Regions from separate parts of the Homo sapiens genome. Here all the other regions are linked to region 4. The links come from fine-mapping of genetic effects on gene expression. A gene starts in region 4. Each other region holds a variant in brackets. All regions are shown on one strand. Distances are from middle to middle. Region 1 overlaps HERC3 (HECT and RLD domain containing E3 ubiquitin protein ligase 3). Region 2 overlaps HERC5 (HECT and RLD domain containing E3 ubiquitin protein ligase 5). Region 3 overlaps LOC102723458 (a long non-coding RNA gene). Region 4 holds the start of HERC6 (HECT and RLD domain containing E3 ubiquitin protein ligase family member 6).

Region 1 (8,310 bases), 280 kb before region 4:
CAACTCTCATTCATTCACTATGCACTGAGAACCTACTATGAGCCTGACACTGGTCTAGGCCCTCAGTACACATCCATGAAAAGAAAAGCCAAAGATCCCTGCCAGTGCAAACTGTATATTCTAGAGGGGCATTGCCTTGGAAAGGTTTAAGCCAAAAGAAAGCAAAAGGTAGGTCTAATTCCCAGAGTAAATACTTTACAAAATTAAGATTTGGAGACTTTCACTTTTTCATCTTACTCTTTTTCTCTTGAAGTTGAATTCATCGATACAAAAATGCATTTTTAAGAATGCACTTTACAAATATAGAAACATACCTGTTCTAGAATCATGGAGTGCTGAGAGTTCATTAACTTCTCAAATAACACCCTAGTTGAGTTCAGGTCAATCCCAGGGATTTTGGGACTCGTTTTAAAATGTTCATCAATTCTAAACAAACAAAATCAAAAAGGTATATAATAAAAGAAAAAGCAAACACTCTGATAGGAATTATAAACAAGTAAAATACTGTGTTCTTAGTAATCAGATTTAAATTTGATCTGGCAGATAAGATCCACAAAAATACTACACTTTGCATAAATCTCAAAATAATAAACCCAAAATACAGAATATTATTCTTTCACAAAGAATAAACCACACTGGAATTCCTTTTACAAGAATTTTCAAATTTTTAAATCTGTTTTCCTTCAAGTCAAAGTACAAGGACTGTCATATCAAGTTAAGGCTATCTTGAAGTTTATAAACAAATAATTATTTCCCTGATTTCATCTTGTGTTTTTTGGTTTTTTTCTGTTTTTGTGGCTCATTGAACTAGATGTAGATGCTGTGGCTTGGTACAAATAACGTCCCCTGTGCAAACTGGTCCACTCATCAACAAATGACAGTAGAACTTCCTTGTTGAAAGCCTTTCTTACCAAAGTATTTAAAATAAAAATGATCTATAGTAAATGCAAAGTTAATGTCTCTCATCGTTAACACAAAGGATACAATTACATTCACCCAAGGACTAATTTCATTGCCACTATTTTTAACTTTCTAGCAACTAAATCATTTTTTTAACCTTAAATAAAATCTTAGCATTTTTGAGACTTAGAGAATATCTCATATATCCTGCTCTTGAACATACCACATTTGTTAATTTACAAAAGAGCTATCTATTTGCAAAGCAGGCTTCTGTTTTTGAGTAATGGACACATTCAGATGATTTTAATACACTCTGACAGCAATGTTATAATTTTTGAAAACATAAGAGTTTCTAACATTTTTTAAAAATCATAATTATATGTATCGGAACCCTATGCTCAAATGAAGATAAATTGCTTGTACTTTGTTTTTTGGGTCTTTCGTTGTTGTTGTTATTGTTTTTAAAATAAATCTGCCCAAAATATAGAAATGAATTCTGGTTTCCCATATGTAATTTTCCATATGCTTTTTGCTATGCTGTTGAGAAAACAAAAACAAAATGTTTTATCTATACGTATTTATTGCTTTGTAAATCTGGTCTTCATTTTGATTGGTTTCCTGAGATGCATCCTATGTACGCTACAGGAGTAGACTTTCTGAAATACACAGATGTCAGTTTGAAAAAAAATAAAAGGCTTTCCCCACAACTCTATACGAAATCTGTGATACTAAGGATGAACAACCTAACAAGTCTGGCCAAGAGCCCTTCCCAAATGTCATGAAAGCTATCCATCTAGAACGGGGTTTCTCAACCTTGGTACTATTGACTTTTGGGACCAGAGGATTCTTTGCTGGGCAGGTGGGAATGAAGGATGTTTAGCAGCATCGCTGGGTTCTACCCACTGGATGCCAATAGCAAGTCCCTCCCCATTGTACCAACCAAAAATGTTACCAGAAATTGCCAAATGTCCTTTGGGGAGCAAAATCACCCTGGTTGAGAACCCCTGTTCTGGAAGGCCAACATCAGCATAATCCAGAATATCTTTCCCTAGAGGAAAAAACTAATTACTAAATATGAAATGAATTGTGTGAGCTCATCCCAGCTGCCTTAATTATAAAAGTAAATGACTTTATAATCTCTAAATGTAACCAAAGAGAGTTTCTGAAGTGACCTCCTGCAACCCAGTTAGGGACTCATTTGTGGGGAGGGGGTGGTGATGGTTGAATTTAGGAGTCAACATGACTAGATTAAGGAATACCCAGATAGCTGGTAAAGTATTATTTCTGGGTATGTCTGGGTCAGTTTTCTGTAAGAGATTGGCATTTGAATTAGTGACTAAGTAAAGAAAATCCATCCTCATTCAGTGTGGGTAGGCACCGCCCAGTCAGCTGAAAGCCCAGAACAAAAAGGCAGAGCAAAGACAAATTATTTCTCTCTTCTGGAACTAGGACATCCTTCTTCTCCTGCCCTTGTACATCAGAACTCCAGGTTCTGTGGTCTTTGCACTCCAATACTTACACCAGCAGCCCCCACCCATTTCTCAGGCCTTCAGCCTCAGACTGAGAGTTACACCATCAGCTTCCCTGGTTCTCAGGCCTTTGGACTTATACTAAGCTATGATGCTGGCTCGCCTGGTTCTCCAGATTACAGATGCCTATGGCAGGATCTCTCAACCTCCATAATCAGGTGAACCAATTCCCGTAGTAAATCCCCTCTCTTCCTCTCCCTCTCTCTAGATACATCCATCTATCTATTTATCTCTCTCCTATTTGTTCCATTTCTCTGAAGAACCTTGAGTAACACAGGGCTCGAGGGGTAGGGGTGGGATTCACACACAGAAATGAAGTCTAATTCATCTTGAGATCTCATATAGCCTGGTCACTGGCAGAAAGGACTGAGAAATAATTAGGACTTGGGATTACCAAAGATCCAAACCCATGACAAGACTCTTTTGCTGCATCAGGTTCCTGAGGGAGATATTTGCAGAAGGGATAAGGCTAAGCAAATAAACATTCTATTTACTACTGGGGAGTTCAACCTCAAATATAATTCTCTGGTGAGCTGGGCTGGACCTAAATCCAAGGAGCCCCTGAAGCCTCCTTAGAATTACTCCCTGAAATTCACTCCTTTTGAGAGAAAAAAATAAAAAATAATAAAAATTTTAAAACTGTGGGAAAGCAAACCAAAGAAATCAAGAAAATTATCTGAGGAATTAAGAATTTAGAATTATGACACATCTTAGAATACTCTGAAAATCTTACTGATGATTCTACCAATTATTTCTGAGATACAGTCTCTCTCGGTAATCTGCTTTTCTGCCATCCAGGTATGAATCAGCATTGCTCTTCCTGAAATCCTCTCATTACCATTATTAGGCTTTCCAATTTTTGCGCAAAGCATCAGCTTACTCATTAAATTAAGGCCAACCACCATCAAAGAGAAGAAAAGTCTTTCACAGCCTTTGCTGAGTAAGTATTTGCATCACATGTGGGGTTTTAAGAAACTTTTTTTAAAAAGATGGGGCCTCACTATGTTGTCCAGGCTGGAATTCAGTGGCTATTCACAGGCATGATCACAGCATCCTAAAGCCCCAAACTCCTAAACTCAAGCAATCCTCCTGTGTCAGCCTTCCAAATAGCTTGAGACTACAGGTACACGTGAGGGTTTTTTAAGGCTCTAAGTCACTTACTTTTTTTCAAGAAAACTTCCATTCCAACAGGCTGCAGAAGATAATATCTGAACAACACCACTGCTCAAAGAAAAGAAGGGAGGGGGAAGCCTTTAATAATTACAAATAAATGGTTATTTAAGCATCAATAATAAAGTAACCATCTACTCAAGGATTTCATTAATAGCAGCTCTTTGTCAGCTGAAGCTTTGGAAAATGTACATTTGCTTTAGAAAAACAGGATGTCACATCTCAAAATGAAGAAGAACTTAAGTTTCCCATGTTAGGGGAAAAAAAAGAATATCAAAGCTCCTGAAAGAAAACCTCTTGTCCCAATAATGTTCTTGAATATTTTTCTACCACCAACCATCTAAGAAGTGCCCTATCTAAACTCCAAAGAGAAACACAGAATAAAACCAAAAAAGAGAAGCCAAGCTGTTACTTCCCGAACACAGAAATTATCTTGGCAAATTAATAACTGAAAAATTACTTCTATTTTGCTGCATATCTGAGACATAAATTAAAAAATAGTGAAACAAGTGCTTATTCCCATTACCTTCTATTATACAGGCTCTGAGGAAACAGCTAATTCTGAGGGCCCAAAATGAAACTGGACATCAGGAACCCTGGGCCTTTCCATTCAGTGTAAGGAAAAGGGAAAGAATAACACAAATATACAGCTGGGGAGGGGATTACAGTAGTTTCTGTTAATCACAGAATTTAGATCAGGAAAGATCTTTAAAGATCATGTCTTCCATCCATTCATTTTATAAATAAGAAAACAGAGAACTAATGGTAAAGTGTCACCATTTCCCTTGCTGGACCCCAGCAAGCCCTCATCTCCTCTCCCCTGCGACCCTTCAGCCTGAGCTCCTTGGCAGA[G/A]CCATCCTAAGGTTAGAGGGATTCTGAAGACTGCCACAGAGCTGCTCTAGGGCGTTTCTAATGCTCTCTCACTCACAACGTTACTAGCTCAAGTGCCTCAAAGTGTAGCGTCCTGGTCATTTGGCCCACTACAATCTATGTCATAATGCAGGAACCATTATGTACGTTTCTGGGAATAACCACAACTTAGTGCACAGAGCTTGATTTATTCTTCCCAAGAATCAGACTTTGCAGAAAAAAGTGGAGAGGCTGAGGAAAGCCAATGAAAATGTGTAAAAATGTGCAAAGGAAAATTGTCCTTTAAATTTGATAAAAGCTCTCAATCCTACTTACTGTTGTTTTTTTTTTTTTCTACATGACTCTGAATTACCATCTCAATCATTATGAATAGGAAAATGCTAGAAATTATTAAGATTAGGTAAGATAACAGCTGTCTCAGATTTGGGATGTTTTGGAACATGCATACACTAAAACCCATGGGAGTTAACCATAACGCTAAGCTCTCTTAGCAGAATCACCAACTCAGGCCTTCATCAGTCAGGATTTTTAAGATCATACAATAAACAAGGCAGGTTGAGGCATATACTGTGTGTGAGAATTGGGGATCCATCCATTATGCTATTTGGGGCTAAGGAGATCAACCCTGAAATAGTAACCAAAAATAACCCACGATTCCCTATAATGTAAAACCCCATTTACATTCACAGTATCAATATGCAAGTACGGAAAATCACACTAAGCTAAAAAGTTGTAACATACTTTGTGGAAAAAAAAATGAAGACAAGCAGCCACATACTTGATTGTATTTGCATTGTTGTGTTCTGAGAGTTTTTGTCTCCAAACTGCTATGGTTTCATCATTTATTAAACTGGTATAATGTGCTTGGTTCATAGTCCTGAAGTCAACAGCAGGAGAATAATTCTGGAGAATTAAATGTAACAGTAAAAAGAAGAAATTATGTAGCATGGATCTTGTCTCCTCTCCTTTCTCCCACATATTCTCCATTTTACGTTTCACTTATGATCTAAATGCTGCAGTGTGCCGCCCAGATCCCCTCCACCCTTCAGAATGGAGGCTCCTGACAGATCCCAGCTGGGTTGCTGTCCAGGACTTGGCATTGACTGTTGCTTCACTATCACATCCAATGGCAGGTAGAGGCATGGTGTAAAGGTCCAGCCCGCTTGCCTCAACTCAGGACTGGCTGAAGGACCATCACAACTTCAGTGCTCCTCATGGGACTGGCTGAGGCCTCTGTTATAACTGAATTGCATTTCAACCCCTCCCTCTGCGCAATCCTGCCTCCTTCATCCCTCAGTAGATGTTCTTCTAGAAAGCACTCTCCCAAAAACCTTTGAGTCTCGGGTCTGTTTCCCAGAGAAACCAACTCAGTACAACTTTCCCAGACTTCTTTCCCCTTTGCTTTGAATCACTGTAACAGCAGGTTTTTAAGGTATTAGTCATCTGCCATAAATGTCCACCAAACTTCAACAAAATGTATTACAAAAGAGCCAGAGTTCAGTTATAATCTATATGACAAATAACCTATAAAAACAATGACTCTTAATTTCTTGCTTCAAGTATATAGCTATTATAAGAAAAATGGCAGAAAAAGATGTTAATAATGTATGTCCTTGAAAATTCCAAATGTTGCCCAACACTGTACATCTTTTATTCAGTGAGATTAAAGAAAAAAAACATAATAAGCACTTTCCTTTTCTAAAATTGCTTGTTTTCAACTTATTTTCCCCAAGCCTTGTTCTTGATCGAGAACTAAGGAAAGGTTGATGGTGCTTTATACTCCTATTCTCGTCTCCAGTGAAGAGGAAAAAGGTAATATTAAAGCACTCATTCATCAGCTCATGAGATTTTTTTTCTCCTTTGTACCTACACATAAAAACATAACTTTCAAAGTAAATTTTCTTGGTTACTTTCCCATAGCTTCAAGTTAACGTATCATTATGGTAGGAAGGAGTAGAGCATGTAATAAAACAGAGATGCCTGACAAAGTTTGTGATCATCTGGTTATTGATAACTATTCTACTAAAATGGCCACAGATATCTATTGAGAGAACAAAAATCATCTTGAAGTACAACATACAGGAAACTCATAATCCAAAGCAGATGCTGGAGTACACACAGAGATTGTCTTTCCACCTCCTTGTAAAACCACTGTTGTTACGTAAATTTTATTTATTTCCCCCATTCAAAGGGGCAGCTGAACATCAACTCTAACACAAACCTACAATAAAATAAAGACTTGGAACTATTTTATCATTCCTCATCATATGTCCAATAAACCAGAGATGCCTTGGGTGAAGTACAAGTTCAGAATCACTTAAAGAACCAAGAAAAAACATCATTCTTCCTGTCTTTAATACATACAGGCAAAAAAGGAAAAATTGCTCTTAGGTCAGTGTTTCTCAACTTTGGCTGGACTTTGAATCACCATGGGAGCGTTCAATAATCCTGATGACCAAGTCATACTCCAGACCAATTAAATCAGAATCTCTAGAGTCATCAGTATTTTGTAGAGCTCCCAGGTGATTCCAGTAGGCAGCCAAGGTTAAGAATCACTGTTCCAGGAAAAAGAAGATTATGAGATAGACACACACACAAACACACACACATGCACACACAATTCTAACAATCCCAACCACATTCCCTCTTCAATTCTATCCAGGGAACAAAACGACAGGAAAAGGAGATGCTATGGTTTACATTCACTAAATTCCCAAGACCTAGAATCAGTGTAGCAAAGGGGTATCTGAATATAACTCCTTCCCTCCCTTCTTTCACCTAAGGCCTGGCAGTAATGAATGAGTCAGCCTTTTATAAAAATAGAGGCTATGGCCGGGCGTGGTGGATCACGCCTGTAATCCTAGCACTTTGGGAGGCCGAGGAGGGTAGATCACTTGAGGTCAGGAGTTCAAAACCAGCCTGGCCAACATGGTGAAACTGGTCTCTACTAAAAATACAAAAAAAATTACCCAGGCATGGTAGCGGACGCCTGTAATCCCAGCTACTCAGAAGGCTGAGGCAGGAGAATCGCTTGAAACCAGGAGGTGGAGGTTGCAGTGAGCCGGGATCACGCCATTGTACCCCAGCCTGGGCGACAAAGCAAGACTCCATCTCAAAAAAAAAAAAATAGAGGCTGTAACTATACAGGTGCTTTTTCTTGGTTCTTTAAGTGATATGGTAACAGGGTAAGCATATGATTTGATCAGCCTCTGTATCTAAATAATCATCTCTGGTTAATAGTTTAAGTAAATGTGCATAGGTTTCAGTTTCAAAAGAAAGAGCAACATCTTCTTAAGTAATGTTTACTTTCCTTTTTCTTTGTGATCTTACACTTTTCATGCATACCTATCCCTCTTTCCAGTTGTTTAAACTTTAACCTGCCCTGCCTCTCTAATAGTATGCTACTTCACTTCCTTCTCATCAGTGTGTTGTTTTCCAGGCCCAAGGTGTTGATTACAATAATAAAAATCAGTTACATATATCAGATACTATATTTACAAGAGAAAACTAAATTTCATGTTAAATTTCACAGGAAAATTAAAGTTGGATACTATTGAATAACACTATTCAATACTAGTTTCTAGGGGAAATAAATACTTAAAACTCTATTACTTATGGACAAAAACTGATTATCCTCCACAGAGTCAGTGCCTTTTGTATTTTGTTTTATTGACATCTTGAAGAAACAAAGAAAAACCTCAGCTTCCTCAGGATTTCTCTGTAATACACACTCTGAGGCTGGGTCTAAAATAAGTCTAGGGCAGCAGTTCCAAATCACGCCAGATGGTAGCACTAAGCCACCTTCTTCAGGCACCTGACCTGGAAAATAGCTAATCATCAG
Region 2 (8,310 bases), 120 kb before region 4:
CTGGGATTACACGTGCCTGCCACCATGCCCAGCTAATTTTTTTGTATTTTTAGTAGAGATGGGGTTTTACCATGTTGGCCAGGCTGCTCTCAAACTCCTGACCTTGTGATTTGCCTGCCTCGGCCTCCCAAAGTGCTGGGATTACAGACGTTAGCCACCGCACCTGGCCCTAATGTAATTTTTATAACAACTCCATCATATGCTGCTTATAACATATATAACTTAAATGTGAAAACACAGATTAAAGTCAAAGAAGGGAAAAAGATACACTATGCAAACATCAACCAAAATGAATGTGGTGTAACTATACTAAAATCAGACAAACAAGACAAGGATAGAAAAGTACATTTACTAATGACAACCGAGTCATATACCAGGAAGGTAAAACAATTCAAAAATCTGTTATGTGCTTAGTAATAACGAAACTTAAAGAAACACTCATATCCACATGTATAGTATAGATGCTAATATACCTCTCCTAGTAACTAACAGAAAAGCAGACAAAAAAATTTTTAAGGACAGAGAAGATTCAAATACAATAAATGATCCAAGAAACCTATTTAGAATATTGCAACAAGATCTCTACATAGAAAACTACCTAACATTTTTTCAAGAATGACAAAAGACGATTTAAACAAATGGAGATTCTGTATTCATGGATTAAAGCCTCATTATTTTAAGATGTCAATTTTTTCAAAAAATTGATCTATAGGTTCAGTATAATCAGTTTCAAAAATTGAAAAAATAAAACCTGATCCATACCTTGCATCTTACTAAAAAATCAATTAAAGTGGATCATAGATCTAAATGTGAGAAATAAAATGATAAGCTTCTAGAAGAAAATACAGGGGAATATATTCATAGCCCTAGGATAGGGAAGTATTCATAAAATAGAAAACAGAAAAACACTATGCATTAAGGAAAATATTGATAAAGTAGACTACATTACAATTACAAATTTTGGTTAATCAAAAGACACATTTAAAAAGTGAAAAGACAAGCCACAGTATGTAAGAAGATATCTGCAGTACATATAACCAACAAAAGACTTGCATCTAGAACTCTCATAAACTGACAAGAAAAAAAAAAGCAACAGAAAAATAGACTAAAGATGAGGAATAATTATTTCTGAAAAGAGGATATCCAAACAGCCAATAAGCATATAAAGTGCTTAACATTAGTAATCAGAGAAATGCAAATTAAAACCACAATGGAATACTACTATATACCCACCAGAATGGCTAATTTAAAAAAGACTAGTAATACTATTAGAGTGGATATAGAGCAATTAGAACTGTCGTACCCTACTGATGAAAGTGTGCCTCCATTTTTTATGTTTGCTTACTAACAGCTTTCAAGTCCCACTCCTCCTTTTTCCCCTTTCGCCTCCAAATCTGCACAACACAGGCTCACTCCCTGGGCACCCACTGATGGCTGCGTGGCTTAAATTTCCCCACGCATGCTCTGGGTTGCATGAGAACCCTGACCCTGGCCCCACGGAACCACCATAAAAACTAAAGCCACCTGCCTCTCTCTTCACTTAAGCCAAACAGATCAGCTTGGATGCCTGTGCAGCTCTCCCCAAAAAGCCCCATTATGTACTAAACATTTTCATACTCTCTGGCTTACATATGGCATCATCCATATCAATATCCAAATGAATTTCAGGTAGGAGCATTGATTCTGCCTGCATGGAGCAAGGGGCAACCACAAGGCACCAAGCACTTCTCCCAGTTACATACCAACAGAAATGCCTGCACATAAACAAAACACATGTACAAGAATGTTCACAAGAGCATTATTCATAATAGTCCAAAACTTGAAATACACTATGTCGGTCAAAAATACTACAGATAGGCCGGGCGCAGTGGCTCACGCCTGTAATCCCAGCACTTTGGGAGGCCAAGGTGGGTGGATCATGAGGTCAGGAGATGGAGACCATCCTGGCTAACACGGTGAAACCCTGTCTCTACTAAAAATACAAAAAATTAGTTGGGCGTGGTGGCGGGCGCCTGTAGTCCCAGCTACTCAGGAGGCTGAGGCAGGAGAATCGCTTGAACCCGGGAGGCGGAGGTTGCAGTGAGCCAAGATTGCGCCACTGCACTCCAGCCTGGGTGACAGAGCGAGGTGCCATCTCAAAAGAAAAAAAAAATTCTACAGATAAATAAACTGTGATATATTCATACAATACACAACTATATAGCTGGAAATGTTATATTTCTTGATCTGGCAGTAATTACATAGGCATGTTTGCTTTGTGAAATTCACTAAACTGTACATTTATGACTTGTGCAAAATTCTGTTATATAGGTTATACTTCAATACAAAGTTTAAAAAAAAAGATTAAGAAATCGTGGAAAAAGATGTGATGTAGGCCAGCACGCTTCCTAGAGATCTCTTTGCCACTCTGACCAACTATCAAGGGAAGGTTCTATAATTCCAAACTCCATGGCTTTAAATGGCATTCCATTAGATGTTGGGAAGTCAAAATATCATAGTAACCTTTTCAACAAATACTTACTATGTGCCTGCAATGTATCAGGCACCACTGTAGACTACTCTAGGTACTGAATATACAGCGGTGAAGAATACATACCAAGTCCCTGCCGCATTCACTATCATTGGAGAAACAATGAGAAATAAATAAGCAAATAAACCCTAAAGGTAGGTAATGTGTGATATGAAAAGAAAAAGCAGAACGAGTGGATAAAGAGGGACAGATGTTGGTGTTGTAATTTTGGACAGGAGGAAATAGAAAGGTCTCTCTGAGAAAGCCATTTCCATTCCTTACCACAATATAAACTCCATGATATATATGTCAAAACACATACAACACACACCAACTTCTCTGCCTTAGTGAAAAATGATTAATGAGAATGAAAAATTAAAGAGCTAAAAGGAATTTTTAGAGCTCAGTAAAATAAAAATAGTACATATACAAACCAACTATTTCATTTTTTGTACCTACTTGTTAGTCTGGTTGACAGTTATGCTACTTCCATTAGGAATTAAGTTTGTGTCGTTTCTGTCCCAGTGCACCTGTAACCGCAAATGAACTCAGATAATATCTCCAACATAATTCTGAACAATCTATCATCAATAAAAACACTTTGGAGCATACTTTCTAAAAAGAATGTGTTAAAATGTACATTTTTGTCATAAAAGCTAGCAAGGAATGTACAAACAAAAAATTACACCCTATCATACTGAATAAAAATAAATTTTTTCAAAGCTTGAATTCTCTTATTTTAACTGATCAAATTAAACAAATTAATTGGAAAATTGCTACATCTCAGTATTCACTTCATACAGCATAGACCCAGTATGGTAGATTTACAAAAATGGCCATGAATTCTTCCCATCCTAGTTCTCCTGCCCCTTTGCCTAGTGGCTTTGCAACACTTGCAATCAAGGGGAGAGGCTATCTCTTCAGCCACTGAATCTCGGCATGGCCATGTGAGGTACTTTATTTAGCCAATGGGATCTGACAGAAGCAGAAGCATGTGTGGTGGGGCTTGCTATCGCTTCCTCTCTGTAACCCTAAGGCCACCATGTGAAGAATAAAGACTGCAGTCTTGCTTCAAAAGCCTCAGCTAGCCTATTGGAGAATGAAAGACCACAGGGAACAGAGACAAGCTGTTCCAGCTGATACCCTATAACCCAACCAGCCTGCCAGTGACTGGGCATGTGAGTGATACCACTGTAGACCATCCAGCCTGGCCAAGTCGGCCCAGTTCAGAAACCCACAAAATTGTATTTGTTCTTTTAGGGCACTAGGTTTTAGGGTTGGCTGTTACATAGTAAAATCTAACTGATGCACCTAGATCATGATGAAGAACAATACCTTTTTCACTAATTTATTCAGGTTTTTTTTT[TA/A]AGTAAAAGTTGACATGTTTAGTTAAATATGTAAAGGGTTAATCAGATTAAAACTAATCTGTTATCTGCTTTTATTGTTACTCACATTAAAATGGATGTAAAATACTTCCTCAAAGTTATCACCTTCATCATCCAGAAGTGTTTGCAAATTCCTAAGGAAAAAATAATCTTGCTTTTAAAAAGGTAATAACCATGATCACTAGACACAGCATCTAAAATAAATGTCAAGTGTATAGCTATTCTGAAGGTATGAGGTCAGGTATAGTTCACAGCACCTCTTTCTCTGCGTACTGATAGTCTAAACAGGGCCAGACCTCAACTAAACATGTCAAATTTAAGAAGCTTGTCTGCATTTCTGCAGGCTGCCTGCCTGCTTCACAGCTCTTGTTCCTTTACCTTAAATTCCCTACCTAATGATTGTAGGTTTCTATTTAGAAAAGGATTCTAACGTTCACTGATAGTGAATTCATTCAAACTGGTGTTACCTTTATTGAAGCTTTTGAACTTTACTTACAGAATAGGTCTCATATTAAATTTCAGGTATCAGTAACTCTGAGGTGGGTCAAAGGACCTTCTCTGCACCTCTTGTCCCAATATCATCAAGCTTAAGAAACACCTGAAATTAGACTACCTTAATAATTTCAGGGCATTTGTGAGAATAGAGGTCACATCAAAATGGACAGTAACCAATTTTTAAATTATTTCCATCCTATCATCCTATGATGCTTTATACATGCTTTTGAAATAACACATCTCATTGTATTTGCTCATTCACTCAAATATTTATTTAACAAACATTTAAGTAGCCCCTACTATAGCAGGCATAGGGGATGTAAAGTTGAGACTAAGATATCACTGCCAATACTCTGGGACTTGAAGGTGAGGTATGCTGATGGGAGTCTCACCTACAATACAGTGAGGTATGTGCAGCCAGAGAACTATGGAAATCACACAGGTATAGGCTTAAAAGAGCACAGTTAAATTTTTCTGAAGGGATACATGACATTGGGAAAGGCCTCTGGGATAAGGTGGAATCTGAACTGATTTTTTTTCCCCACTGGGTTTTTAAATTACTGTATTGTGAAGTAACAGACCATGTTTTATTCATTGTGGGTTGTTTTTGTTTTTGTGGGGAAGGCGGTGAACTGTTCTCCAGCTGTGATCCTGTGAAATCGAACAAGTTACCTGCTTCTAAAATACAATGGTAGGCCAGGTACAGTGGCTCACGCCTGTAATCCCAGCAATTTGGGAGGCCGAGGCGGGTGGATCACTTGAGGTCAAGAGTTTGAGACCAGCCTGGCCAACATGACAAAACCTCATCTTTACTAAAAATACAAAAATTAGCCAGGCATGGTGGCATGTGCCAGTAATTCCAGTTACTCAGGAGGCTGAGGGACGAGAATCGCTTGAACCTGGGAGGTGGAGGTTGCAGTGAGCCCAGATTGCACCACTGCACTCCAGCCTGGGCCACAGAGTGAGACTCTGTCTCAAAATAAATAAATTAAATAAAATACAACAGTGGAACAGGCATAGGATAGACATTCCCATTTCAAAAGGGAATAACAGAAATAAGAAAGGGGTAATAGGTCCCAACTAAGTCCAAAACTCAAAATGGCATGCAACATTAAATCTTAAGGCTTGAGAATAATCTTTGACTCAATGTCCCACTTTCAGGACACACTGGGTTTGGGGTTGGGCTCCTAAGTTTCCAGGCAGCCCTACACCCATGACTTTGCTGGGCAAAGCCCACCCCTAGAGGCTCTCACACATTAGTGTTGGGTGCTTTTGATTCTCCCTCAGGCTGGAACTGCACACTGGTGGCTCTTCTCGGGTCTCTAGAGCAGCCTCACTCCCATGACTCCACTAGGCATTGCCTTAGTGGGGGCTCTCTGCAGTTGCCTCAACCCTGTGCCAGTTCTCTGCCTGGACCCCATGGCTCTGTGGAGTATCCTTTGATATCTAGGTGGGAGAAGCCAAGGCCCCACAGCTTGTGCACTCTGTGCCAGCAGAGATGGCACAGCCACTGTGACCACACCACACCTGGGGCCACTGGAGTCACACCTGGGTCAGCTGAGGAGCACTGTGCCAGAATGCAATGAGTAGGGACTTGAGGCAGCGCTGGACATCAAATGTCCAGGTCCTGTGGGCACACAAAGCCACTCTTGACATAGTTCTGTCCTCCAGGCCTTGGCACTCAGGGCCTATGATGGGAGTGACAGCCCCCAGTGATCTCTGAAATGCCTTTGGGATCATTCTTCCATTGTCGTGATGAATAGCACCAGGCTTCCACCCATCCACACTAACCTCTTTATTAATAAAAAGAGTCACCTGGCCATACCCTTGGTGCTCTCTTCCAAACACGTTTGCATTCTTTACAACATGGCCAGCCTGAGAATTTCCAAATCTTTAAGTTTGGCTTTTTTTCTAATGATAAATTCCACTTTAAATAATTCTCCCTGCTTGCATTTTGGTATAAGCAGTCAAGAAAAGCCATATTGTTCCTTTACCACTTTGCTTAGAGATTGCTTCTGCCAAATATCCTATTTCATTGTTAAGAATCTGACTTTCCACAAAACACTAGGATACAACAGAATTCAGCCACATTCTCTGCCACTTTATATAGTAACAAGGAGCACCTCTCCTCCAATTTCCAATGTGTTCCTCACTTCCATCTGAGACCTCATCAGAATTGCCTTTATTGTCTACGTTTCTACTAACATTCTGATCATGACCACTTAGGTAATCTCTAAGAAGACCAAGGCTTTCTCTAGAGGTCTCCTCTTCTTCTGAGCCCTTGCCAGAACTGCTCTATAGGGCAATACATGATTTTTCTAGCATGTGCCTCAAAACTCTTCCACTACTTACTAATTACCTAGTTCCAAAGTTGCTTCCAACACCACACTTCTTGGTAGCAATTTCCCTTAGTCCATTTACGCTGCCATAACAAAATACCTTAGACTGGGTAATCTATAAATAGAAATTTATTGCTCACGGTTCTGGAGGCTTGGAAGTACAAGATCAAAGTGCCAGCAGATTCGGTGTCTGAATCTAAAGGGAATAGGTGACGACCCATTCCTTTTCAATGGTGTCCTCTGTGTCCTCTCATGGTGGAAGGGGCGAACAGGCTCCCTTGGGCCTCTTTCATAGGGGAATGAATTCTACTCATGAGGGCTCCACACTGGGGATGAGGCTTCAAAATATGAATTTTGTGGGGGACACATTCAGACCCTGACAACACCTTCCCTTTTGCATTTTTCTAACACCCTCTTGATGAAGAAAGAAGTTCTTTAATCTTATTGCAATTAAATGTATTAAATCTTTTCTTTACTGTTGGTACACTGCATGTCTTGTTTAAGAAATCTCAAAGGTGAGAAAGATCATTCTCCTGTATTTTCATGATTTTTGCATTTAATATCTAAATCCTTCATCCACATGGAGGTGATTATCATGTATGGCATAAGACAAAGATCTACTTTCATTTTTTTCCCCAGATAGATATCATTTTTTTCCAGTTCCATTTATTGAGTAGTACTGCTATTCCCCTTGATCAAATATGTCACCTCTAATAAAGTTCCACATAGGCATGGGTCCATTTCTGAGCTCTATCGTCTGTTCTATCGGAAAACCTGCACCAATATCATACATCATACTGTCCTGACTAATACAGCTTTCTAATAATTCTTGATAGCTGACAGACCAAGTTCTCCATCCTTATTTGCCTTAAGAATTATTTCTGGCTATTCTTGACCCTTTGTTCATCCATATAAATTTTAGAACCAGGTTGTGAAGTTTAATAAAAAGCCTCCTGGGATTAAAATTGAGTTTTACTGAACACAGAGATCACTGGTTCTCAAAATGTGAGCCAGACCAGCAATTCTTGGGAATCCTTGGGCCTTTACAGAGTTCATGAGGTCAAAACTATTTTCATAACATTATTAAGATGTTATTTGCCTATTTTCACATTCTGCTGTGAGTAAACAGAAGAGTTTTCATGAGGCTATATGATATTGTGGAATGCTCTGCTAACAGATATTTGTGTATTCCTGTGTTTAAAATATTTAATTTCTAATCCCGTAAATATTGACAGATGTAACCAACCTAACTAAAAGCGCTTTGGAGTCCTCAATATTTTTAAGAGAATCTTAAGACCTAAAAGTTTGAGAAACAATGATACAAATTTAAAGATCTTTTAGTTCATGTACATTGTTAATTATCAGTCTTTTGAGGCATAATTATTATTTAGGTTATCTTCGATGTTTCCAGTAAAATAATAATGACAAATTTATCTCCTTCTTTCTAAATCTTGTGCTTTTGATTTTTTTTTCCTTGTCTTATTAGTACAGTTAGTATAAACGATTAATAGACTCTGGAGCCAGACTGTGTTCAGATCATCGTTCTGCCATTATGGGGCCTTGAGCAAGTTACCTAATCTTT
Region 3 (8,310 bases), 71 kb before region 4:
TCACACCTGTAATCCCAGCACTTGGGAGGCAAGGCAGGAGAATTTCTTAAGCCCAGGATTTCAAGACCAGCCTGGGCAACATAGTGAGACCTCGTCTCTTAAAAAAAAATTATTCTTGATTCATCACTTTATTATTTATCCAAACATTTTTCAACTAATTCTCTTTTTTTAAATTGTAAATTGGCAATTTATAATTGTATACATTTATGGGGAACAAAGTGATCTTATAATTTATGAATAACAATGTGGAATAATTAAATCAAGCTAGTTCCCACATCCATCACCTCAAATACTTAACAATTTTTGTGGTGAAAACATTTGAAATTTTATCTCTTCGGTATTTTGAAAAGTGCAATACTGTATTGTTAATTATATTTACCACACTGTGCAATCGAACTCAAAAAAAAAAGAATGAACACATTCATCTCGTTTCTGGGTTAAGTGTTCTGATGGTGAGGTGTCCAGGTCTTGGCACATTGAACAAAGAATTGAACAACACACATGAACAAGCGGTGAAGGAGTGAATTTATGAAAGTGGAAGATAGTGGGCCGGGCGCAGTGGCTCACACCTGTAATCCCAGCACTTTGGGAGGCCGAGACGGGCGGATCACGAGGTCAGGACATCGAGACCATCCTGGCTAACGCGGTGAAACCCCGTCTCTACTAAAAATACAAAAAAATTAGCTGGGTGTGGTGGCGGGCGCCTGTAGTCCCAGCTACTTGGGAGGCTGAGGCAGGAGAATGGCGTGAACCCAGGAGGCGGAGCTTTCAGTGAGCCGAGATCGCGCCACGGCACTCCAACCTGGGCAACAGAGCCAGACTCCCTCTCAAAAAAAAAAGAAAGTGGAAGACAGTGAAGGATCAAAGGCAAAAGTACATTCCACAGGGTGGGAGCGGGCTCAAGCAAGTGATTCAAGAGCCCTGGTAGCAAAGTCTTCTGGGGCTTCAGTACCCTTTAGAGGTTTCTTGTGGGTTACATCCTATGTAAATGAAGGACTGGCTTGTGACCAATTCCACGCCAAGGTGAATTGGCCCATGGCCAATCCAAGACTGGTGTGTTTTGGTGCCTTATGCAAATGAAGGGCCTGGAATAGACCAATCACTGGCCAGAGTGCAGGTACCGGCCTGTGGCCAATCAGAGCCTGATGTGGTTTGGCACCTTATGCAAATGAAGGTCCTGGAATGGACCAATCATAGGTCAGTGTGCAGACTCTTCAGCTCCAGGGAGTCTGTCCAAGTTATCCTTAGATTCCCTATCTCTGGATCCTATTCTCCTGCCTCATTTTCCCCCTGAGAGACATGATCCCTAGAAATCTTTATGGGAGGCAGAGGGACTGATGGTCTTTTCTTTTGTAACTGCTTCCTGCTGATTTAGCACGCTGGCCTTACCTGCTGGGGACCACAGAACTCTCGCCCTGCTTTGTCTTGTGGAGACAGAGTAACCTTTTGACGGCCAGAGGTGGTGCCTTTACCTGGCACTGGCTGGAAACCTTGTCGCACAATCATCTGAAGCTAAATGGTTTCTAGGCAAGAGAAAATGAACTTGGTTAAAAGGTTTAGCAAACATGGGCCAAAGACCAGGGCCAGTATAACCATTAGCAACGGTCTGGCTAGGGGATGGAACCATGACACCCAGCCCAGCACCTTGACCAGGAGCCCCATGATTCCGACAGCTGTTGTATCTTAGCGGCCTGGTCAGCTAGTTTTCAGGTGGCATCCCTTACTATTCCTGATTGGTTGACATAGAAACAGCATTCTTCCTCTAGGAAAAGACATAAGCCTCCCTTCTCAGTGGTTATGAGGTCTAGTCCCCTTCTATTTTGCAAAGTGACCACTGCCAGGGAGCCTATTTGATTTTGTCTGATGACAATACTTTGAGCAATGTCATCCAAGATTTCCATGAAATCAATGGACAAGCCCTGGTAGTAGGATAGGGAAGTTGCCAGCCCGTTAACTCCTGTTCCTATTCCTGCTGTTACTCCCAGCTCTACTAAAAGGGGTATGAGTTGGATGGCTTGCTTGTGTCTGGTGGTTGCAGTCAAAGATACAGTGAGAGATTGGTTATCGGGAGCTATATTAATTTCAGGGGCTAAATAAACAAGTATACAAGTTCCAGTCCAATTGGCAGGTAAACGTAAGTAGGAGCTGGTCCTGCACAGGAAAAATGCTCCCCGTTTTTCAAGACAGAAATTGTTTTCTATGGTGAACATATGGGTTAGTTTGTTATTTTTGCTTTCCCAAGTAGTTAAGGTCCCTGCTAAGGTGGCCCCTGTTGACGACGGGAAGGGGCCTTGCAAAGTTGGGTTGCCCCAGTGGTTTTATTTTCCCAGTGGAGGTAGCTGCTCTTGGCGTCCACCAACAACCACCTGGGAGTATTTTCATAATGGAGAACCAAAAGACAGCTAGAGGTGAATTTCAGGGCTAATGCAGTCTTCCCAAGGAAAAGTGTGGACACAGCTAGGGGGCTTCCCTTAACAGTACTTAGACCGAATATGTTTTAAGATGCCCTTAACTAGGAATGGTTTCCGTGAAAACCATACAGGTTTTCTAAATCATGTAGTTTGGGTAGTTGTGTAATTTACATGATTGTGTGAGGGATTAATCTCCAGAGTGTAGTTGCACTGATTACTCTTCAAGGTCCCCAGGACCTGACTGGACTTTTGGCTCCTTTTGACACAGAGTGTACCTGGAATTCTAGCTCTGTGTGTGTTGATATTGGGCCCTAGATGGGCTTTTCTGAGGATGTAACCCTAGAGAGGTTGCTCTGATAGGACTGCAGGAGGTTTACTGCTCGTCCTGTCATTGTAACCTTTGTCATGTCTGTAATTTGGTTGTATAAGTCATCTAAGTTTATTAGTTTGAAGAGAGTTCCTCCTTTGTAGGCAGGGTGATAAGTCATTTTTTCAAGGGCCCAATATCGTGCTGGGACTGGGATAGCAGTGTACCTGGAGGAGTATGGGGATAAGCAAAGCCAACAATGTTTTTACTAAGGCTAGGCTGGCAGCCAGGCACAGTGGCTCATGCCTCTAATCCCAGCACTTTGGGAGGCCTAGGCGAGCAGATCACTTGAGGTCAGGAGTTCAAGACCAGCCTGGCCAACATGGTGAAAGCCTGTCTCTACTAAAAAATACCCAAAAAACAAAAACAAAAAAACAAGGCTTGGCTGGTGGTGTTTAACAGTCTTTGTGTTAGATTCAAGGTTCTTAGTAAATACTGAGGGTCACCTAATGGTCAGAGGGTAAATCAAGGCCCTGCTGTAGAATTAAGCCAATTCCCAATATGCATGATCCCAGTGTGTGTGGCCTATAGCAAATCATTGTGGGTATGAATGTACCTTTTTGTTATTTTGCTTCCTTTAAGTCCTACAGGATAGGATTCTACTAGGGCAGAGGAA[AT/T]GATCCTACCTGCTTGGGAAAAGGCAGTTTAATAATGTAAGAAAAACTAGTATTACCCCAACTACCACGAACACACAGAAAAGACACCAAGGAAAGTTAGTAGGCCTTTACTTATCTTTTAGCCATTCTTTTAAACAGGTATTTCAGGTCTTCCACAGGTTCACAGGTATAGTGGCTGGTGGGAGTTCCACGTTCGGGGTCCGGGAACTTCTGGTATGGCAGGCTTGATGCTGGAAAGATGTATCCAATTATCTAACCCTAGTACCTTGACCATGGAAGGTGTGGCCAGCACCACTGAAAATGGTTCCTTCCATTTGGGTTGTAGCTGTTGAGCAGATGATTCCTCTTTCCATGTTTTCACCGGTACCTTACCTCCTGGCCTAATTTTGGGTTGCTGGTTAGTTCCCAGTACAGGGAACCACTGGGTTCCAAACTTTTGTAAATCCTGCTGAAATTGTCCCAGGTTAATTAGGTATTTTACTAAACTGGTTGTTTCTGGATCAGTGATTAGATCATTAGTTAAAGATGGCCTTGCATATAATATTTCATATGGGCTTAGATTAATTTTTGCTTGAGGGGAATTACGGATCCTTAAGAGGGATGTGGGGAGCAAGTCAACCCAAGTCTCTGACATCTCCTGGCACAGTTTAACTAATGCCCATTTTAGAGTTTGATTAGCCTTTTCTACTTTCCTGGAGGATGGAGGCCTCCATGCTGAATGTAAATTTGATCCTGAGGGCCTTAGCAACCCCTTGAGTTATTTGGGAGACAAAAGATAAGCTGTTATTTTGAAGGCTCTGGGGTAGCCCAAACCAAGGGATTATTTCTCTTTCTTTCTTTCTTTCTTTTTTTTTTTTTTTTGAGGCAGAGCCTCACTCTGTTGCCCAGGCTGGAGTGCAGTGTGCTTGGCTCACTGCAGCCCCACCTCCTTGTTTCAAATGATTCCTGTGCCGCAGCCTCCTGAGTAGCTGGGATTACAGGCATGCACCATCGTGCCCAGATAATTTTTTTTTTTTTTTTTCGTAGAGACAGGGTTTCGCCATGTTGCCCAGGCTGGGCTTGAACTTCTGGCTCAGTGATCTGCCTGCCTCAGCTTTCCAAGGTATTGGGATTACAGGTGTGAGACATCGTCCCTAGCCAGATTATTTCTTTTAAGAGAATTTTCACTACTTCATTGGCCTTTTCTGTTCTGGAAGGGTAAGCTTCAACCCAGCTAATAAAGGTTTCTATCAGTACTAGTAAAAACTTGAATCCTTTACAGGCTGGCATATGGGTAAAGTCCAATTGCCAGTCTTACCCTGGGTAAGTTCTCCCTCTTTGGATTGGCTCTGTTAAAGGAGGCACTTTGTTTCCTGGGTTGTTTAATGCACACAGTGAGCAGGCTTGACAGACCTGTTTGGCCATGGAAGCTAGGTTGGATCCAGTGAAGAGCTTGTTTGCCATGGCCAAAGTTGTGTCTCTTCCCACATGGAAAGAGTTATGCAGGGCTTTTATGATTTTCCATTGGGCTGCTTGGGGAAGATTTATTTTTGATCCCTTATACCACCAAGATCCCTGTTTCATTCCTCCTTGTTGTCTTATTAGATGTTCTTCCTGTGAGGTGTACTCAGGTTCTATTGGGGGGTCATAAAAAAGGAGTAGTGCTAAAACTTGTTGAGACTGTACCTTGAGGGCTGCTGCCTTGGATTCCTTTTTGTTCCCTTGTGCTATAGGAGTTAGATTCTTTTGTTGCCCTTTGCAATGAATAATGGCTATGGCCTCTGGCAAATGTTGTCTGCAATAGCTGAAGAATCCCATGTTTTATGGGGGAGTGCTTGCTAGTAAGTAGTCTCCTTTCCAAATTGCAGCATTAGCATGAACCACAAGAAATGCATATTTAGAATCTGCATAGATGTTAGCTTTCTTTCCTTGTCCCAACCTTTATTTATTTATTTATTTATTTTGAGACAGAGTTTTGCTCTGTCGCCCAGGCTGGAGTGCAGTGGTGGTACGATCTCAGCTCACTGAAACCTCCACCTCCCAGGTTCAAGCAATTCTCCTGCCTCAGCCTCCCAAGTAGCTGGGACTACAGGCACACACCACCATGCCCGGCTAATTTTTGTATTTCTAGTAGAGACGGGGTTTCACCATATTGGTCAGGCTGGTCTTGAACTCCTGACCTCAGGTGATCCACTTGCCTCGGCCTCCCAAAGTGCTGGGATTGCAGGCGTGAGCCACTGCGCCAGCCTCTTGTCCCAACCTTAATGCTTGAGTAAGAACAATGATCTCAGCCTTTGTGTCAATGTGCCTGGGGGCAGTAGCTGGACTTCAAAAATGGTGTAATTCACTATTGCATATCCAGCTTGGTGCTCCCTGTTTAGCACAAAGCTGCTGCCGTCTATAAACCAGTTATCCACAGGGTCTGGAAGAGGCTGTTCTAAAAGATAAAAGAGGCTGGCTCCCATATCTGTGTACAATGATTTGCTCACAGGAATGATTGGTTATGGTGCCCATAGGTAGCAGTGCAGCTGATGATATGGTTTGGCTGTGTCCCCACCCATATCTCATCTTGAACTGTAGCTCCCATAATTTCCATGTGTCATGGGAGGGACCCTGTTCCCAGAACCAAGCTGGGTCTGGCTGCGTTTTCTCAAGGCCCAATAAGGAGAAGCAGACAAACTAGGAAAGAATGGAATTTATTGATATAACTGGATACAGGGAGAAGGCCAGAGATAATTCCACCAGACCAACCCAAAGTGTTACAATTTTCTTAGTGCATGTATAGGTTGGGGTTATGTGCCTACGTGCAGTATAGCATTCACCTAAGTCTATTTGTAGCTAATTTTGTTTCAACTAGAAGGACAGAAGCAAAAAATGCTTGCTAAGTTTGATTAAAAGGGCCCCAGAACCTTCAAGGCCTGTCTACTGTGGTACCAGAGTGATTATTTCTATCTTATCTCCTTTGCAGCTTGGTCCAGAGAGCTGCCTTAGACTCTCTAATGAATCTATTCACACAGCTGCCACCATTACCTTGAACTGTCTCAGATTCCGTCAACCCGAGATGGGTCCTAGCACTAGGAATGTAAGACTGTCTCTATTATTTTGACTTGCTCCGGGTTAGGGAGAAACCTACTGACCATATGACATATGTTTCATTTCTAGCTTTGATGTCTGGGCACCAGTTTCCCTAGGCTTAACTATTTGCTAAATGTTAAGGCAGTGCTGTGGAAATCTGTCAGTGTAACTGGAGTGCTATACAGGCCTGTCTGTGTGATTGTCAGGGAGAATTGGCCTGCCACAACCCAGTGGGAGGTAATTGAATCATGGGGGTGGGTCTTTCCCGTGCTGTTCTCATGATAGTGAATCAGTCTCACTAGATCTGATGGTTTTATAAAGGAGAGTTCCCCAGCACACACTGTCTTGCCTGCTGCCATGTAAGACATTACTTTGCTTCTCCTTTGCCTTCCACTAGCCATGATTGTGAGGCCTCCCCAGTCATGTGGAACTGTGAGTCAGTTAAACCTCTTTCCTTTATAAATTACCCAGTCTCAGGTATGTCTTTACTAGCAGCATGAGAACAGACTAATAGAGCTGGGTTTAAGGTGTTACAGGTCTTAATTGTGATCTCTGGATTATCTAGGAGTGCCACCTCGTATTTAATCTTTCTCCTGTCATCCAGATATGTCCTTTTATTTCTAGGACTGGTGGGGAGTTGTGGCTGGTCTAGAGTAATTTTTGTTTATTTATTTATTTGTTTATTTTTGAGGCGGAGTTTTGCTCTTGTTGCCCAGGCTGGAGTGCAATGGTGCGATCTGGGCTCACCATAACCTCCGCCTCCCGGGTTCAAGCAATTCTCCTGCCTCATCCTCCCAAGTAGCTGGTATTACAGGCATGTGCCAGCACCCCCGGCTAATTTTGTATTTTTAGTAGAGACAGGGTTTCTCCATGTTGGTCAGGCTGGTCTCCAACTCCCGACCTCAGGTGATCCGCCCACCTTGGCCTCCCAAAGTGGTGGGATTACAGGCATGAGCCACCACACCTGGCCAGCCTATAGTAATTTTAATAGCTTCTTCAACCAAAATAGCAGTGGCTGCTATTGCCTGCAGGCAGCTGGGCCACCTGGTGGCTACTGTCTTATTTCTTTGAAAAGTATGCAACAACTGGGCACAGTAACGCACGCCTGTAATTCCAACATTTTGGGAGGCCAAGGTGGGTGGATTGCTTGAGATCAGGAATTCAAGACCACCCTGGCCAACATGGTGAAACCCGGTCTCTATTAAAATACAAAAATCTGCTGGGGCATGGTGGTGACAGGCACCTGTAATCCCAGCTAGTTGGGAGTCTGAGGCAGGAGAATGACTTGAATCCAGGAGCTGGAGGTTGCAGTGAACCAAGATTGTGCCAGTGTACTCCAGCCTGGGAGACAGAACAAGACTCCATCTCAAAAAAAAGAAAAGTATGCAATGGGCCTAGGCTCTGTTCTCAACTTCTGAGTAAGCACTCCCACAGCTATGCCTTTCTTTTCTGCTACATACAGGAAGGGCTTGGTGAGGTTTGGAATGCTGAGTGCACGAGCCTGGCTGAGAGCCCGTTTTAACTTGGTGAAAGTCTCCCTCATTTCTAGGGTTCATTCCATTGGCTCATCTTAAGGTCCCCTTGTTGCCTTGTAAAGGGGCTTTGCTATGTGCCCGAAATTTGGGATTTGTATCCTATAGAATTCAGCCATTCCAAGTGAAGCTGCTGCTTGGCCTGTGAATTAATTTTGGTGCCCATGACATCCAGAGTTACCCAGGGATCCTAAGTGGTAGTGATGATGTCCCTGGGTCCCATGAGTCTTCATCTGATCCCTCCTTATGTGCTGCTAGAGTTTTGACTGATGGAGCCCCTTGGTGGGAGCAGGGGCAGTCAATTATCCAGTGCCAGAGGTCACGACTGG
Region 4 (8,310 bases):
ATCATAGCCTAGGAAAATGAAACTTAAGGTTAACCAATCAGAAACCACCAACTAACATCTAACTAGAGACTTTACCAACCAGAAACTGCTGACTACTTCAAACAAGGGACTTTCCACTTTAACCAATCAAGTATTTTCTTTGTCTTGCTTCCTGGAACACGTTATCAAAGGTTCCCCCTGGCATCTCCTTGCACCTCCCTTAGTGGAGCCCAACTGCTTGAGGTCTGGTGCTGCTCAATTCATGAACTGCTGAATGTTCAAATTGACTCTTAAAAACATTCAATTACCCAAGTCTATCTTTTAATGGCTGTTATTTAAAGGAGTAGGCATCACGGAGGGGGTAACTTCTAGGGACTATGACACATGACCAAATGTTTCTCTAGCAAAACCTAGCAAAATAAAGAGACCCAGAAAAAAGTTGGGATCTCCTCCATTTTGCTATTCTGTCTTCCCACCCTAAACACTGAAAGCAGTGAATCCCTTGCTCAGAAGGAAATTGGAAGGGAGCCTACCTCATGAGTGTGAGAGGCAGATGCTGGATCCTCTTACAATGAAAAGTGAAAAATATGCCCCTATGGAGGCCCTAAATATGCCCACAAATGAAAACCGGATCACATTTCCCTACAAGCCAACCTAAACTGCTTTCCCAAGGTGTCTGTCTCTGAATTATTAGAGGTTTGGAGTTGAGAACATCATACCAGTAAAGTTTTTGCAACATTTAAGATTTTGTTTTTCCTTTTATCTTTGTAATCTTATCTTTTTCAACTATTTACTGTCAATTTATGCAAGGTTAAAATTTCCCAAAGATTCATGCACTCACAAAGATAGAAATTGGTACCATTTTTCTAGAGAACAATTTGGGGTTAAGTATCATGTTGCCCTTCATTTCCAAATGAGGGTGATAAGACCTGAAAACATGCTACTTTAAGAATTTGAGCTGAAGGCAATTGAGAATCAACAGATGCAGGAAGAGGTCTCTGCTCTCTTCTTATCTACCTAAAAGTAGGTCATAAATATCCTTTTGTGAGAAGCTCCCATCTCTGGCACCAAGAAAAGGGTCAGCCGGGCGCAGTGGCTCATAACTGTAATCCCAGCACTTTGGGAGGCCGAGGCGGGTGGATCACGAGGTCAGGAGTTTGAGACCAGCCTGACCAACATAGTGAAACCCCGTCTCTACTAAAAATATAAAAATTAGCTGGGCATGGTGGTGAGTGCCTGTAATCCCTGCTACTTGGGAGGCTGAGGCAGAAGAACCGTTTGAACTGGGGAGGCGGAGGTTGCAGTGAGCCGAGATAGTGCCATTGCACTACAGCCTGGTGACAGGGCAAAACCCCATCTCAAAAAAAAAAAAAAAAAAAAAAGAAGAGAAGGGTCACCTAAGATGAAGACTTGGCACTGAGGTGAGCCTGCATAAACAAGTCAATTAAAATAACCCTTATCTTCCATTAGATTTTCCCATATATTTTCTAGTCACTTTCCCTGAGTTCATCATCCTTTAAAGTCCAAACCCCCTTTTCTTTGTTAAACATGGTACACAAGCTCCTAAGTCGAAGCACTTGAGTTTCACTTCTATTCTGTAAATTCCCACGCATGTAAATTCCCCTATATGTAAAAGATTAATAAAATTGTATGCTTTTTCTCCTGTCAATCTGTCTTTTGTCAGTTAAGTTTGCAGGACCCAGCCGCTGAACCTAAGAGGGTAGAGGAAAAATTTTCCTCCTCCACACACCTTTTGAAACTATTCTCAGCAGGTCATCAAAAATGTAGTCAAATATTTGCTTACGAGAATATCAATCAGTATTATTTATAAAAGCCCCTAGTGGGAAACAATCTAATTTCCACAAAAAGAGAATAATTATGGTACTCTCAGAGTTTAGAATGTTATGCAGCAATTTAAAACATATTTTCAAAACATACAAAATGAAAGGGTAATATGTTCATAAGATTATGCTTGATGAAAACACAATGTACAGAGTTGCATAAATACTGCATATACAAATCTATAATGACATGATTTTTATAAAGATTAAATATGTACATAGAAAAAAGTAGACAAGGAGAAAATGCATCAAAATGTTAGGAGTTATCTTTGGGTGTTGGAGCTACGGTGATTGCTTTCTCGTATTTCTACAATAATCCATAACGATTATTGTATTATCTCACATATATAATATATATATTTATTATTATTATGTTTTTTGAGACAGAGTCTTGCTCTGTTGCCAGGCTGGAGTGCAGTGTCGCGATTTCGGCTCACTGCAACCTCTGCCTCCCGGGTTCAAGCGATTCCCCTGCCTCAGCCTCCCAAGTAGCTGGGACTACAGGCGCCCGCCACCACGCCCAGTTTATTTTTTGTATTTTAGTAGAGATGGGGTTTCATCATATTGGCCAGGGTGGTCTCGATTTCCTGACCTCGTGCTCCGCCCGCCTCGGCCTCCCAAAGTGCTGGGATCACAGGCGTAAGCCACCGCGTCCGGCCTATTATGTGTATATATATATATTTATATATTATATATATATATTTATATATTATATATATATATTTATATATTATATATATATTTATATTATATATATATTTATATATTATATATATATTTATATATTATATATATATTTATATATTATATATTTATATATTATATATATTTATATATTATATATTTATATATTATATATATTTATATATTATATATTTATATATTATATATATATTTATATTATATATATATTTATATATTATATATATATTTATATATTATATATATTTATATATTATATATATTTATATATTATATATATTTATATATTATATATATATTTATATATTATATATATTTATATATTATATATATTTATATATTATATATATATTTATATATTATATATATTTATATATTATATATATTTATATATTATATATATATTTATATATTATATATATTTATATATTATATATATTTATATATTATATATATATTTATATATTATATATATTTATATATTATATATATTTATATATTATATATATATTTATATATTATATATATTTATATGCTATATATATATTTATATATTATATATATTTATATGTTATATATATATTTATATATTATATATATTTATATGTTATATATATATTTATATATTATATATATTTATATGTTATATATTTATATATTTATATATTATATATATTTATATATTATATATTTATATATTATATATTTGTATATATTTATATATTATATATATTTATATATTTTATATATATATTTTTATATATATATATTTTTTAATGCCCCAGTGTATTTCTAAGGGAGATACAGGTGTCTGACCCACAAACCACGTTTGTAAGGTCAGGCTGCCTTCTCCAGGTAGAACCGCGCAGGCGAGGATTTATCTGCAAGGCAAGCCGGAGGGACCACATCTCTTTCCAGAGCAGCGCTGACCAGGTTAGTTTCGGCTCTCAGTTTCGCTTTGAACTTGAATTGGAAACCGAAACAAATCCGAGGGGCGTTGGGAAAACGAAACTGAGGAAGTTGCTCTTCGGTAGCACAGGGCACCATTTTCCTGGTTCCTGTGGCTCTTCGGGCCCCGAGGAATCCAAGGCTCCCAGCACCCCTCCCTGCCTGGCCCGCGGCGCCCAGCATCTGAGCCGCTCCCTGCACCTGGGCCCCCGCGCCCCTCACCCGGGTCCCAGCGCTCCGCACCCGGTTCCCTGCGCCCGGTACCCAAGCCCCCGCGCCCATGTACTGGGGTCCTCACACCCTGCACCTGGGGCCCCCCGCTCACCTGGCAGCTCCCCGCGCTGCGCGCCCCTGCGGCCCAGCTGACCCCTGCTGTTGTCTCCGCACGAGAGGACCCTGTGGTTGGTCAGCAGCAGCAGAGAGTGGCGCTCCCCGCTGGCCGCCTGCAGTAGCTCAGCCCCGGGGCTGCCCGCCGTCCTCCGGCGCTGCAGCTCCCTGGAGTCGGCGCCCCAACAGAAGTACATCCCGCTTCTGCGCCCTGTCGCCTGCTCCGGATTCCGTCGGTCCCGCTGCGACAGGCTCCCGAACGCTGGTGACTGGGTGCGCGATGATTTCCTGAATATCAAGAGACTCACCCTGTCTTCAACCCGCCCCAGGGGCGCAGCCCTGGCCCCATGTCAACTCTCGCTGCCTGAACTTCAAGTGCTGAAGAGCAGAGAGGGCGTCCCAGGGAATAAAACTGAGTTTACATCCTAAGCCATTTATGAGTCGTGAATGCCACTTTGGGCAAGTTACCTAATGATTCCGTGCTTCAGCTATCATATCTACGAAATATGGACTGCAATTCAGCAAATCTAATATGTCGGGATAATTTAATAGGCACATAAAGTGTTAGAATAATACCTAGAGTGGTTAATAAAGCATCTGAGTGCCCACCTCATTCCAGACCTTTTTTGGCATTGAAAATATGTTTGTTTTTTGTTTGTTTGTTTGTTTGTTTGTTTGAGATGGAGTGTCGCTCTGCTGCTCAGGCTGGAGTGCAGTGGCACCATCTCGGCTCACTGCAACCTCCACCTCACGGGTTCAAGCTGATTCTCTTGCCTCGGCCTCCCGAGTAGGTGGGATTACAGGCATGCGCCACGACGCCCGACTTAATTTTTGTATTTTTAGTAAAGATGGGGTTTCACCATGTTGGCCAGGCTGGTCTCGAACTCCTGACCTCAAGTGATCCACCCCTCAGCTTTCCAAAGTGCAGGGATTACAGGCGTGAGCCTCTGGGCCCCGCCTGAAAATACAATTAGTGAAAGACAAGATCCTCTTGATGCGTTTACATTCTCCTGAGGGAAAGAGAACATAAACAGATAAACACATAGTGTAATATCAAGGGGCAACGAAAAATACAACAGGAACCAGAGGGTGGAGGCGGAAGGCACTGGTATTTGAGATGATATTAGGGAAGATCTCTCTGATGAAGTGATATTTGTGCAGAGAGCTGAGGGGACATGGGAAATGAGGGAATGAGTCGTGATCACACCTGAGGGCAGAGGATGAAAAGAAGCAGTTGGAAGGTTTTGAATAGAGAAGAGCCATGATCTGACTTCAGTTTTTAAAGATTCATCTGGCTGCTGTGTGAAAAATAATAGGACAAAAATGGAAGCAGAAAGCCAGTTAGCAGAGACTACTTCAGAGTTCAGGTCAGGTGATATCCTAGAAGGGAAGAGAGGAGAAGTTATTAGATTCAAGACATGTTTTGAAAGTAAGAGTCCACAGATTTGATGATGGATTAGAAATTGGGGGGAAAGAAGAAAAGGGATTAGGGATTACTCCAGGGTTGGCTTTAGGGGTTACTCCAAGGTAAACTCTACTGGACTGGGAAACCCTGAGGAAGGTGCAGGTTTAAGCTATGTGTGTCTGGAATACAGATTGGTAATGATAACTGTAAGATGCTTGTTAATCAAGAAGGCAATAGGATAAACTGTTTTGGAGTTGTAGAGAGAAGCTTGGGTGTAGTCAGAAAATTGGGAGCCATCAGTGTAGAGGTGATGCTTAAAGCCAGATGGCTGAATGAGAACACCCAGGGGGTGAATGTGGTGACAGTATAGCAGAGGCTAGAGGACTGATCATAGGAGGAAAACCAGGAGGAGGAGTTATAGACAGAGCAAGTAACGAATAAAGGAAGGATCAACTCTGTCAATTTCTTGTGGAGCAAGGTAAGGATTGAGCACTGATTTTTATTTATTTATTTGTTTGTTTGTTTGAGATAGAGTTTCCGCTCTTGATGCCCAGGCTGGAGTGCAATGGCGTGATCTCAACTCACAGCAACCTCCGCCTCCCAGGTTCAAGCAATCCTCCCGCCTTAGCCTCCCAAGTAGCGGGACTACAGGCACGTGCCACTACGCCCAGCTAACTTTTGTATTTTTTGAAGAGATGGGGTTTCATCATGTTGCCCAGGCTGGTCTTGAACTCCTGACCTCAGATGATCTGCCTACCTCAGCCTTCCAAAGTGCTGTGATTATAGGCCACCATGTCCCGCTGAGCACTGGTTTTTAGATTTGGTAACTTTGATAATGTTAGCCATCATCAGCATTATTGATTTTTTTTTAAAAGAAACTATTACAGAACCTATTTATGTAATTTCAATTCACCACTCTTCATGACCATGTTTCAAGTTCTTTAAAGAGAAGAACAAATGTTCTTTATTTTTCTACCTCAAGAGTACCTGGAACTTGGTAGATGCTAATAAGGGTATGTCGGACAATTGGATTGATGAGTAGTGAGTCAGTGGATAGTATTAGTATTTCTGGTTCTGTTTTGCTGTATACCAAATATAACCTTTTTCTGAATAGTAATTTCTTAATGTTTATTTCTTTTCTCAAGCACAAAATGTAGGAGTTTGGTATTATTACCATAAGATACTGAGCCCTCAAATTAAGTTATTTCTTTAAAAAAAAATTTTTTTTTGAGACAGAGTCTCGCTTTGCCACCCAGGCTGGAGTGTAGTGGCACGATCTCAGCTCACTGCAACCTCCACCTCCCCGATTCAAGCGATTCTCCTGCCTCAGCCTCCTGAACAGCTCAGATTACAGGCGGGCACTATCACACCTGGCTAATTTTTGTATTTTTCGTAGAGATAGGGTTTCACCATGTTGGCCAGGCTGATCTCGAACTTCTAACCTCAAGTGATCCGCCTGCCTCAGCCTCCCAAAGTGCTGGGATTACAGGCGTGAGCCACCACTCTTGGCCTAAAAAATCTTTTATTGATACATAATAGATGCACATGTTTTGGGGGTACATATGATAATTTGACACATTATCAAATTGGGATATCTATCGCCTTAAATAATTTATCTTGGGCTAGGCACAGTGGCTCATGCCTATAATCCTAGCACTTTAGGAGGCCGAGATGGGAGGATCGCTTGAGCTCAGGAGTTGGAGACCAGCCTGGGCAACATGGTGAAACCCCATCTTTACAAAAAATAGCTGGGTGCAGTGGCACATACCTGTAGTCCCAGCTACGTGGGAGGCTGAGGTGGGAGGATTGCTTGAGCCCGGAGCCTGGGAGGTGGAAGGTGCAGTGAGCCCAGATCGTGCCACTGCACTCCAGCCTGGGCGACAGAGCCAGACCCTATCTCAAAAAAAAAAAAAAAAAAAAAAGGAACATTCAAATTATTATTGGCTAGTGGTTTTGAAATGTACCTATAGTCATTCTACTGAGCTATTGAACCAGGTCTTATTTCTTCTATCCAACTGTATATTTGTACCCATTAATCAACCTCTCTTCATTTTCCTCACCCCTACCCCTACTCTTCCTGGACTCTGGTTACCAACAATGTACTCCTTATCTTCATGAGATTCACTTTTTTTTTTTTTACTCTCTGACATATGAGTGAAAACACGTGATAATTGTCTTTCTGTGCTTGGCTTATTTCATTAACATAATGACCATTCCACCCATGTTGCTGCAGAAATGACAGAATTCCATTCTTTTTTTATGGCTGAACAATATTTCATTATGTATATGTACCACATTTTCTTTATCCATTCATCTATTGATGGGCACTTAGCCTGATTCCAAATTTGGGCTATTGTGAATAGTACTGCAGTAAATGTGGGAGTGCAGATGTCTCTTTGATATATTGATTTCCTTTCTTTTGTATATACACAGAGTAGTGAAATTGCTGAATCATATGGTATTTCTATTTTTAGTTTTTTGAGGAACCTCCATACTGTTCTCCATAGTGGCTGTACTAATTTACATTCCCACCAACAATGTATGAAATGTACATCAACAGTGTACGTTTCTTTACATCCTCACCTGCATTCCTTATTCCCTATCTTTTGGTAAAAGCCATTCTAGCTGTGGTGAGATGATATCTCATGGTTTTGATTTGCATTTCTATGAAGATTAGTGATGTTGAGCATTTTTTCTTATACTTGTTGGCCATTTGTATGTCTGCTTTTGAGAAATGTCCATTCAGATCATTTGCCCTTTTAAAATCAGATTTTTTTTTTTGCTGTTCAGTTATCTGAGCTTCTTATAATAATATGGTTATTAATCCCTTGTCAGACAGATAGTTTACAAATATTTTTCTCCCATTCTGTGGGTTGTCTCTTCACTTTGTTGAGTTTCCTTTGCTGTGGAGAAGCTTTTTCGCTTAATGTAATCTCACTGGTCTATTTTTGCTTTTGTTTCCTGTGTTTTTGAGATCTTCCACAAAATTTTTTGCCCAGAGCAATGTCCCAAAGCATTTCCCCAATGTTTTCTTCTAGTAGTTTCACATCTTATATTGTCTTTAATTAACTTTGATTTGATTTTTGTATATGGGTCTAGTTTCTTTCT

Evidence for each region.
Region 1: its variant is fine-mapped to the expression of HERC6 in fibroblasts (GTEx, PIP above 0.99).
Region 2: its variant is fine-mapped to the expression of HERC6 in whole blood (TOPMed, PIP above 0.99).
Region 3: its variant is fine-mapped to the expression of HERC6 in whole blood (TOPMed, PIP above 0.99).

What each region holds. Positions count from the first base shown.
Region 1 is chr4:88,659,493-88,667,802 of GRCh38, reverse strand. HERC3 (HECT and RLD domain containing E3 ubiquitin protein ligase 3) reads right to left here. Exons shown (of 26, transcript NM_014606.3): 11 at 5,248-5,372; 12 at 3,591-3,650; 13 at 315-426. Among named protein-coding and RNA genes, the nearest start is that of NAP1L5, 34 kb to the left of the region's middle. RefSeq lists an enhancer at 2,629-3,828. The variant G/A (reference allele first, on the strand shown) is at 4,452.
Region 2 is chr4:88,495,644-88,503,953 of GRCh38, reverse strand. It overlaps HERC5 (HECT and RLD domain containing E3 ubiquitin protein ligase 5), which reads right to left. Exons shown (of 23, transcript NM_016323.4): 19 at 3,962-4,028; 20 at 2,969-3,039. Among named protein-coding and RNA genes, the nearest start is that of PIGY, 24 kb to the left of the region's middle. The variant TA/A (reference allele first, on the strand shown) is at 3,876.
Region 3 is chr4:88,445,935-88,454,244 of GRCh38, reverse strand. All of the region lies in intron 1 of LOC102723458 (a long non-coding RNA gene), which reads left to right. Among named protein-coding and RNA genes, the nearest start is that of HERC5, 7.0 kb to the left of the region's middle. The variant AT/T (reference allele first, on the strand shown) is at 3,395.
Region 4 is chr4:88,374,606-88,382,915 of GRCh38, reverse strand. It overlaps HERC6 (HECT and RLD domain containing E3 ubiquitin protein ligase family member 6), which reads right to left and starts at 4,064. Exons shown (of 23, transcript NM_017912.4): 1 at 3,796-4,064. The coding sequence starts at 3,994. RefSeq lists enhancers at 1-235, 3,312-3,641 and a silencer at 3,652-3,841.